Linked DNA regions of Homo sapiens: region 1 is linked to region 2. Evidence: fine-mapped expression QTL. A gene starts in region 2. The other region holds a variant in brackets. All regions are shown on one strand. Distances are between the middles of the regions.

Region 1 (5,391 bases), 55 kb before region 2:
AGTCAAATTGACCCTGTTTGCAGGTGACATGACTGTATATCTAGAAAACTCCAGCATCTCAGCCCAAAATCTCCTTAAGCTGATAATCAACTTCAGCAAAGTCTCGGGATACAAGATCAATGTGCAAAAATCACAAGCATTCTTATACACCAATAACAGACAAACAGAGAGCCAAATCATGAAAGAACTCCCATTCACAATTGCTTCAAAGAGAATAAAATACCTAGGAATCCAACTTACAAGGGATGTGAAGGACCTCTTCAAGGAGAACTACAAACCACTGCTCAATGAAATAAAAGAGGATACAAACAAATGGAAGAACATTCCATGCTCATACGTAGGAAGAATCAATATCGTGAAAATGGCCATACTGCCCAAGGTAATTTATAGATTCAATGCCATCCCCATCAAGCTACCAACGACTTTCTTCACAGAATTGGAAAAAACTACTTTAAAGTTCATATGGCACCAAAAAAGGGCCCTCATTGCCAAGTCAATCCTAAGCCAAAAGAACAAAGCTGGAGGCATCACGCTACCTGACTTCAAACTATACTACAAGGCTACAGTAACCAAAACAGCATGGTACTGGTATCAAAACAGAGATACAGACCAATGGAACAGAACAGAGCCCTCAGAAATAACGCCACATATCTACAACCATCTGATCTTTGACAAACCTGACAAAAACAAGCAATGGGGAAAGGATTGCCTATTTAATAAATGGTGCTGGGAAAACTGGCTAGCCATATGTAGAAAGCTGAAACTGGATCACTTCCTTACACCTTATACAAAAATTAATTCAAGATAGATTAAAGACTTAAATGTTAGACCTAAAACCATAAAAACTCTAGAAGAAAACCTAGGCAATACCATTCAGGACATAGGCATGGGCAAGGACTTCATGTCTAAAACACCAAAAGCAATGGCAACAAAAGCCAAAATTGACAAATGGGATCTAATTAAACTAAAGAGCTTCTGCACAGCAAAAGAAACGACCATCAGAGTGAACAGGCTTCTACAGAATGGGAGAAAATTTCTGCAATCTACTCATCTGACAAAGGGCTAATATCCAGAATCTACAATGAACTCCAACAAATTTACAAGAAAAAACAACCCCATCAAAAAGTGGGCAAAGGACATGAACAGACACTTCTCAAAAGAAGACATTTATGCAGCCAAAAAAACACATGAAAAAATGCTCATCATCACTGGCCATTAGAGAAATGCAAATCAAAACCACAATGAGATACCATCTCACAACAGTTAGAATGGCAATCATTAAAAAGTCAGGAAACAACAGGTGCTAGAGAGGATGTGGAGAAATAGGAACACTTTTACACTGCTGGTGGGACTGTAAACTAGTTCAACCATTGTGGAAGTCAGTGTGGCGATTCCTCAGGGATCTAGAACTAGAAATACCATTTGACCCAGCCATCCCATTACTGGGTATATACCCAAAGGATTATAAATCATGCTACTATAAAGACACATGCACACTTATGTTTACTGCAGCACTATTCACAATAGCAAAGACTTGGAACCAACCGAAAGGTCCAACAATGATAGACTGGATTAAGAAAATGTGGCACATATACACCATGGAATACTATGCAGTCATAAAAAAGGATGAGTTCATGTCCTTTGTAGGGACGTGGATGAAGCTGGAAACCATTATTCTCAGCAAACTATCGCAAGGACAAAAAACCAAACACCGCATGTTCTCACTCATAGGTGGGAATTGAACAATGAGAACACATGGACACAGGAAGGGGAACATCACACACCGGGGACTGTTGGGGGGTGGGGGGAGGGGGGAGGGACAGCATTAGCAGCTATACCTAATGCTAAATGACAAGTTAATGGGTGCAGCACACCAACATGGCCCATGTATACATATGTAACAAACCTGCACGTTGTGCACATGTACCTTAAAACTTAAAGTATAATAATAATAAAATTAAAAAAAAAATAAGTCTCATGAGATCTGGTGGTTTATACAGGGGGGTTCCCCTGCACACATTCACTCTTGCCTGCCGCCATGTGAGACGTGACTGCTCCTCATTTGCCTTCTGCCACGATTGTGAGACCTCCCCAGCCATGTGAGTCAATTAAACCTCTTTCCCTTATAAACTACCCAGTCTCGGGTACGTCTTTGTTAGCATGAGAACGGACTAATAATACACTAGAACAAGCCACTCCAATAGCCTCCAAACAGGTCTTTATTAATCTATTCTTCTTCCCCTCAATTCTACTCTCCCACATCAAAGTGATTTTTTAAAGTAAAAATTATTTATCTTCATGGACTTTCTGATAAAAATTCCTCAACAGCACTCCCAAATCAATAAGGCTTATAAGATGTTTTGTAACCTCTAACTTCTCTCCTAAGTCCCCTGACACCACCAAACCCTTGCCATACCTTCAGTTACTCAGAACAGAAGTTAGTTTCCATGTCCCGGTCTTTGCATATGCTGATACGGCTACTTAAAA[T/AT]GCCCTTTCTCCCATTCTTTGAAACTTTCACACTAAATTAGGACTCTTGTTTTATACAGTCTCTGAAAACACTTTATCATAACTATAAAATAATAATAAATTATTGTGCCAGGGAATATTCTAAATGCTTTAAAATTTATTTATGTAATTATCAAGATAACGCTAGAAAGTAAGAACAATTAACTATCCCTATTTTGTAGCTAAGGACCAGAGAAGTTAGGTTAACTTCCTAAGGTTATATATCTGATAAATGCGGAGATGGGTTTTGAACCCAGACCAATTTGCTGGAGTCCCCCTTTTTAACCATGATAGTACACTGACTCTCAAATATACAACTAACAATTTAATGTGTGTTTTGTTCTTGAATTTGTAAAGGGAAAAGCAGTAAGGAGCAAATAAAAAGCCGATTGGAGGAGGAAGGTCCTTATATTGTGAACAATGGTAAGTAGGGTATACCACAATCGAATATTTATGTGTGTCAAAAAGATCACTTTAGCACAAGAACAAGAATGGACTGATTATGACTGATTATAGACATGTGAGACAAAAGCCAGTCTCTACAAGACTAATCACATGTATTTTACAGAAAGTTGCATTAATTTGAAAATGAAGTTATGCTTAAAAGAAATACTATTATACCAATTAAAAATTATTATCCACCAGGTGCAGTGGTTCACGCCTGTAATCCCACTCAACTCCCAGAGGTTGAGGTGGGTGGATCACCTGAGGTCAGGAATTCAAGAGCAGCCTGGCCAACATGGCGAAACCCCATCTCTACTAAAAATACAAAAATTAGTTGGGCGTGGTGGTACGCACCTGTAGTCCCAGCTACTTGGAGGCCGAGGCAGGAGAATCACTTGAACTTGGGAGGCGGAGGTTGCAGTGAGCCAAGATGACGCCACTGCAGTCCAGCCTGGGTGACAGAGTGAGACCACGTCTCAAAAATGAAAACAAAAAAAAATTATTATCCAAGGAGGGCTTCAGATAAGTAGAAATAACTACTAAAAGCTATATATACCTGGTTTCCATGTTCCCAAAGAACTAACATTTTTAGGTACTTAAGTATAGTGAACACAATTTAACCTTTCAAGGAATTAGGATAATTATAACCAAACTCTTAATTTCATTATAATAGCTCTAATGTAGACATTATAGCATTACATATGTAGGGCACATCTAGAACTTGTGTTAAAACAAAAACAATTCCCTAGTAGCAACTTTTTATTGTAGATTCTCTAATGTAGGGAGGAGTTTTACTGCTAACATGTTGGTACAGGTGTCACACGATAAAATCAATTGTCTCATTCACTGCTTCATACTGAGTAACAAATTTTCACTCCCAGCTACAGAGTTTGTAGTCTGCTTGCATTATACAAGATGAAGACTGCTAACTGCAAGATATACAGTACCTGAGAAGGGGGAAAAAGTGTTTCTCAGGCACTGTTTTCCTAATGGAGATCTGAGTAATTTAGAATTTGAGTTCTTATTTTCTCTCTGAATTCCATATTCAATATCAACAAACAATATACAAATATGCACAAGTTCTTGGCTATAAAATAGGCAGAAACTTAATATAAAATCACAGCCAACTGCCATTAACACTTATCTGCCTTTTATCAAGGTGTAGCCAATTAACATCTGAAACCAATGATGAGGAGTCCTAATACCTGAAGATAATCTAGCGTTTTTATAATTGCCCTTTAGAGGGAAAACATGATAGGTAAAAATCTCACAGACTGCCCAAATTCTATGGAAGTAGAATATTCGTATATCAAATATTATATTGTTACAACCTGGAAATATTTGTTAACAAAGATATTTTTGTTTCAGTAGTATTTTTTGTGATAGGATTTTAAACTGCTTATCCTGCTTCGCAACTACTATAAATAATTCTAATTTTATTTAATTCTTGAAAAACAATTTAAAAAGGGGGGGGGGCTTAAATAAAGGACAGAAAGGCACCTACACTGCACAAAAAAATTCTAGCTTCTTAAAGAACAAAGATATTAATACCTGGAAATCTTTACCAAAAAAAAAAAAACTCTTCATGTGAGAAACAAATTCAAGTCCTCCGAGTTCTAGAATACTATGGTTTCATATTTTTAATATGATATAGGTATAATGAAAAGTTCATGAATCTGCTTAGGATGGATCTAAGAAAAGTGAAGATATAGATAAATTTTAAAGTCTAGAATTACAAATCATCAAATCGATAGCATGGAAACAAATAAGAGCAACTCATTGTTTTAGCCAATGCAGAATAACCATAAATAAGCAAAAAAGGCCTCAATGAATACCAAAGATAGTTAACATGTAGATACACACACACACAAAAATCTATGACTGGTTGGAAATAGGCTTTAGTAGAAAGCTAGGGACCTATACAAACACTTCCACAATCACTATTTTGGAGAGTAGATAAATATCCTGGCAGAGTCCTTTCCAAGGTTTACAGAAATATTTAGCATATTTCTGTGTATTTTTGGGGGGCTCATCCAATAAAACAAGATGGCCTATATCTGAAAGATGGGGAGGGTATGTGTGTGTGTGTTGGTGGGGGAGGGGAGGGTGGAAAAACACATCACTCTTTCCTAATCCAAAAACTAAAATCTGGTGTCTGAAGCTGCTTTATTCAGAAAATATTCTGAAAAGCCATGTATGTTATCCCTTAATATGCACCCCCAAAGTCTACAAATTCTCTAGGGAGTGTTACCAAAATGCTACAAATACCTCCACAAGTTTGACTCTGATCTAGGGAGAATATGTTCTGTATGTTTCAACATGAATAAACAGATTTTGTGGTTTTCTAGAATCTTAAAATGTGCTGCACCAATATGCTTTATATAGATTCACATTTGAACAATTAATATATAAGCTTTAAAAGCTAAGTGCATCATCCTAAAA
Region 2 (5,391 bases):
CAAATGCCTATTCAAGCAAGCACATGGCATTGTTAGTTTGCCTTCAAATATGTGATCCCAACAGAATGAACTTTCTACAGTTACAAATTTTAACAACAAAAAAAAGCTATTATTTACCACTGCTTTTAAAGAGCAAGAAAATAAATTGTAAGCTAAGTTCTTTTCATTGGTCTATTAATGCTTACTCATTATTTCATATATACATGTGAAGCATACATTTTATTCATATTATCAGAAAATCTTATGAAGTAAGTCTGTCACTAGAAAAGATAAAACTATAACTTATACAGGTTGTAAAAAATTCTGTAATGGTCTTTCAAAATACAGGTACTTTTAACACCAGTATCTACTAAAGGAATACAAATGAGAACTGGGTTAGAATCACTTCTAATAAAATCTATTCATACACCTGAAAATTTTATTTACTTTTGAACAAATAATTTTCAGATTACAATAACTGTAAAGCATCTCTGAAAAATCAAAAAGTGCAACATCCAAAGTTATAAAGCAAAAACAAAGGTAATTAGTTCTTGTAGGGAGGTATATGGGAAGTTGTATCATTCTGAATTTTTTTGTTTTTGTTTTTTGCCCAGCATCAGAAGATAAGCCACAATCTGAGTTTTATCTTCAAGAGCAGGTACTTGGGGATATAAATCACTCATACACAAGCATTTTGCCCTCATTTTTCCACCATGTAAATTAAAGTATTATAGAAATTGAAAAATTGTATAGGCTGTATTTGTTGCTTGGTTAAACAGGCAATTCTCATTCCCTGAGATCAGATTAGGTTACAGATATCTCTACATTGTATACTTAGAAAAAGATTCCTGCCAACAAATGTTTACATTAACTTATTTGTATTGATAAAGCACTAATCAAGATGCAAAAAAAACTTCAGCAGTTTCTCACTTCCTCTCTAAAATACAAAGTATTCACAAAAATTATTACAATTCAAGCTCTCAGAAAATATGAGAGAAAAGTACCTTTTTTACAGTAAGGATCTTACAAAGTCAAGAAATAAGTGAGTAGAGTGGAACATGTTTTGTCTTTAAGTGTATTTTGTATTTTTTTCTTTAGATTTAACATTATAATAGAACTACAAACTAAACAAATTCAACATACAGAGCTTACTAATTATCTTGGTCCATTATAAAACATTTCAATGAACTGGGATGTGAATATAGACACTTAACCATTTCAGCCAACTATGATTCTTAACCCTTTCAATCTGCAATAGTTACCTTACAAAATTGTGAGATTTATTCATTGACGTTTGGAAAGAACTGTTGTCAATTATGCCAAGCATTCCCAAACTCAACATCAACCTTGCATGTAAATGGATACTTTAAAATTTCTATCTCATCCCTCACCCCATACTTTATTCTTTCCATTTATATTGCTTCAAAAGGGAAATCAACAGTCACACTTATGATTCCGAGCTCTAAAAATTCCTAATATTAAGCATGACACTAAATATGTTCAACTTTGAACCTTAAATTCAAGTTGGCCTCCCTCGTGAACTGATTTTAACTGAGTACTTTTTACCATTTCGCCAAGAACTAAGGGTTCAAAGCAGTGTACTTAATTATGAGGAATTGCCCAAACGATTTTAAAAGGAGTGGGATTCTCTGACCAAGACTTTTATGAAAATGAAACAAAATATGTTGCACTCAGTCTTCCGGATGTTGAAAAGTGAAGATGTCTCCAAGGATTCGAAGGAAGTTGATGTTTAGGTTCCCTCTGAGAGGGTGGTACCCTTAATGTAAGACTTTTGTGGTAGTAATACCGTACCTACAGGCCTGGAATAAATATAAGGTCTAAAACCTTGGAAATACTTTGTATAAAAGAAAACTCCAATTCTCTTTTGCTAAGGACCACAGTTACCAAGAGTTATCAGCTTTCACCCGGACAGACAACAGTGCTTCAATGAAGAACTACAAAGGCCTCTTTTAACCCTACTCTTTTCTTCTGTTAAACTTTTAAGCGAGACCTACGACAGCAAAAGGTGGAGAGGCCCCTGCGGAAGTAGAAACCCAGGACTTGCAACTTCACAGACAGAAGCGTCTGTGGTTCCTCCGCCGCCCCAGGATCATCCGGACTCAGTCTACGACACTACGGAAGCTTCACCTTCCTGGTGCGGTGGCAGAGGCGGCATCGCAGTTGCATTCCTTCTCCCTCCACCATGCACAGCCTTCGGTATCCCAGGGCCTGCAGGATCCTGACACCCGTTAGCCAGTCCAGTGTCTCCCATCTGACACTTGCAAACACACTAACAGAAATACACATAACTGGCAGATGATATACGTGTATTGAGAGAAGGTAAGAAGCCACAGACAGCACCAGCTGCCGGGAAGGCGGCAGAGCCGTCTAAAGCGGGCTCGAGCTCGTCGGCCACGGCCACGGCCGCTGCCGCCTTCTCTTCTCCCCCAGGAAGCAGCGCGGCGGCAGCGGCTCCTCCGCGCTGGCGGGAGCCTAGGGGAGTGGAGTCTGGGGAAGCCCCACCACTCGCGGATGGGACCGGGCCTAGGATCTGGAGCTGCTGCTGCTGCAGCGGCCCGAGTACAGCGACGCTTTACGTCCGGTCCACCACCACCCCCATACACACCCCCTCCCTCCCTCCACCGCCGCCACCCCCCTCCCCGCCCGCTCCGCTCTCCGTCTCTCGATTGGAGCCGAGACAAAAGCAACGGGAAGCGGTGGGCCGGGACGCTACCGGCGGACCCTGGGCGCGACCGGACCGGCCCCGGGGCATTCCCCCGCCTTGCGGGGGCCCCGAATCTGCCGCCCCCGCCGCGCGCCCCGCTGCCAGACTTCCGAAAATTTACCAAAAACTCACCGCATGAATTTTCTTGTCCCGCGGATCCAAGATGGCGACGTATCCACCGCGGAGGCTGCTGGGAGCAAGACCTTTACCCTCTGACCGCCGCCGTGACCCCCGTCGCTCCGGCTTCCCTCCAGGCGGCAGCGGAAGGTGGGAGCGACGACTGCAAAACGGCAGCGATGGGGTGGGTAGGCAGGCCGCTTTCAGCGCGCTTCTAACAAGGTGGAGAGAGGCGCTTCACTTCCCTACCGCCCTTACCGCCGCTCCGTCTTGTCTCCCACCGACTCACAGGGAGGCTTGCTGCTCCTCCGCGGCCGTTACAGAGAGCGGGGCTTCTGCGGCCGCTACCGTTTCCCTGGGGCTAGGTTGCTTCGCAGAAGGCTCTGGCCCTGAGTCCGAGGGGGACTGCGGGGTCCAGGGGCGATGAATGGTGAGGTGGCTTCAGTCCGCCCTCCCCGGGGACGCTGAGCGTGTTCGTGTTCGTGTTTGTGTTTGTGTTTGTGTTGGACACCCCCGCCCCCGCACGTCCGCCTCGTCACTCCTCCCCTCCTCACTCCCGCCACCTGGAGCGAATCTGATCGTGTCCCTGTTTCCTCCCTCAGCTCCCGCAACCTCCGGAGCTTGTGCGCGTACTTCAGGGACCGGCACCACGTCACCGTCACCTCCTGAGTAGTGAGTTCCCCTCTGATGAAACCACTGGTGTGTTTACTCACCATCCCCACCATTTTTTTTTCCCCAACCTGATGGAAGGAAGTACATAATGGAGAGCAAGTTTTTAAAGCACGGTCGTGTCGTGTGAACTTGCTCTAGCCAAATTAGGTTTATAGCACTTTTTTTGGCTCTCATTACCTCCAGTCCCCACATAAACAAGAGTGACCAGCTGGGTCATCCGCAAGACCGTTTGAAATTATTGTGGCTTGGGTGGAAACTTAAAGGAGTGAAGTATCTGCTTTCCAGAAAAATCGTTGTCATTCAAAGTGAAATTAAACTTGTTTTCTTTGCAATAATTCGCCTTTATTTCCTTGTATATCTGTAAACTCTTCACTTTTTTGTAATTACTAGACAATTCGGACTTAAAAAGAGCCTCAGCATGTGTATTTTGGAATTGTGTAGCTTCATAATGTGAAAATTATTCTTTTCTATTTGAGTAAAGTACAGTTAATTTGAAGTAAATAAAATTTCTATTTCCATTGGTTGTTTCTTTTAAAAAGTCACCTTTTACTTACAAAAGAATCACTGTAATCCAGTTTACATTTATCATTGAAGGTCAAAAGCAAGAAATAGGAAGAAACACAAGCATACTATAAAATAAAAGGTAACTGTCATGTTTTTGAAGGTAAGGTGTTTTGACATATCAGCAGACATTGTGTGAATTTATTTCAACTCCTAGTGGTACTGGTGTAGGTAGAAAATGTTTTGCTTGGTTATTCATTTCATCAAACACTCTACTTCACTGTTTTTTTTTCACTTCAGGAAAATTCGAGGAGGAACAACACATACTAGTGTCTTTCCTTTCTTTCTCCCCGTCTTCTGCAAATAGTCCCTTCCTCTTCCTGCTTTCTCCTCCTTCTCATGTTAACATCTTCAACCATAAGATGGTGTGTTAAAAGATTGAATATACCTCTATGGAATGACTTCCAGAGGGTGTAAGTCTGATATGAGAGTTTTATTACCTTGAGTATTTTACTGGAAGAGATAGAACAACAAACATTTTCATAATAAATGTGTGGGTTAGGAGTGTTAGGAGAAAATACACTGATACTATTACTTTCAATATTTGATACTACTTACTTTGACTCTCACTGAACACCTATTTGTTTAGGATGAATTCACTTTAAGCCGGGTTGAAGAACAAGCCTTTAATTGTCCTATTATTTGTGCCAAATCTATTATAAATTTGTTAAAAAATTTTTAATACCTACCTTAGAGGGTACTCTAGGTATTTAATGAGCTAGCATTTGTTAAAGGCTTGTATAGTAAGAATTCTTATAGTAAGAGTTCTTACCAATAGATGGTATATTTTTTAAATTGTCCTGTTGCATCAAAAAGTTCATCTTTATTGGTAATGTTGATTAAGTTTGCCCATTTGGTAGTTTGGTTTCTTTTAACTATCTTACTAGATTTTCTTACTTTTACCTGAAAAGTAGTCCTTACTAATAGGCACATGTTTTGTATATTTCCAAAATATGTATTATGTTAAATTCTCTGTACACTTTATTTAAAAATTACAGACGTTGAGGGAAAAAAAATACCCTATTAAGGGAAGAATGAGTTTGTGTATAACTTGTAGAAGAAGGAGGCCACCCATTTTTAGAAAAATATGGATGGTATTGAAAATTTTGCCATGGCAAGGGATAAAAAGGACAGGCTTCTCTAATGTGTCTGAAACAACATTTGAATCCCCTTTGTTCATTCCCTAAATCTGCTGCTCCTTTAGAATTCCTGATTTTCATAAATAGTACCACCATTCACTTATTTGCTCAGGCATAAAACTTGGAATTTTCTGATTCTTCACACTCATACAACTCATCAGACAGTACCATCAGTTCTTCCTGACAAATACATTCTGA

The links. PIP is the estimated chance that this variant, and not a neighbour inherited with it, causes the effect.
Region 1: its variant is the best candidate, but not a certain one, in a credible set for the expression of CNOT2 in whole blood (INTERVAL, PIP 0.63).

The regions. Positions count from the first base shown.
Region 1 is chr12:70,295,792-70,301,182 of GRCh38, reverse strand. All of the region lies in intron 2 of CNOT2 (CCR4-NOT transcription complex subunit 2), which reads right to left. Among named protein-coding and RNA genes, the nearest start is that of CNOT2, 55 kb to the right of the region's middle. The variant T/AT (reference allele first, on the strand shown) is at 2,488.
Region 2 is chr12:70,240,926-70,246,316 of GRCh38, reverse strand. It overlaps CNOT2 (CCR4-NOT transcription complex subunit 2), which reads right to left and starts at 2,884. Exons shown (of 16, transcript NM_014515.7): 1 at 2,837-2,884. PRANCR (progenitor renewal associated non-coding RNA) reads left to right here and starts at 2,957. Exons shown (of 5, transcript NR_120460.1): 1 at 2,957-3,005; 2 at 3,424-3,493; 3 at 4,088-4,136. RefSeq lists enhancers at 2,155-2,294, 3,025-3,224, 2,399-3,598 and silencers at 2,595-2,854, 2,926-3,465.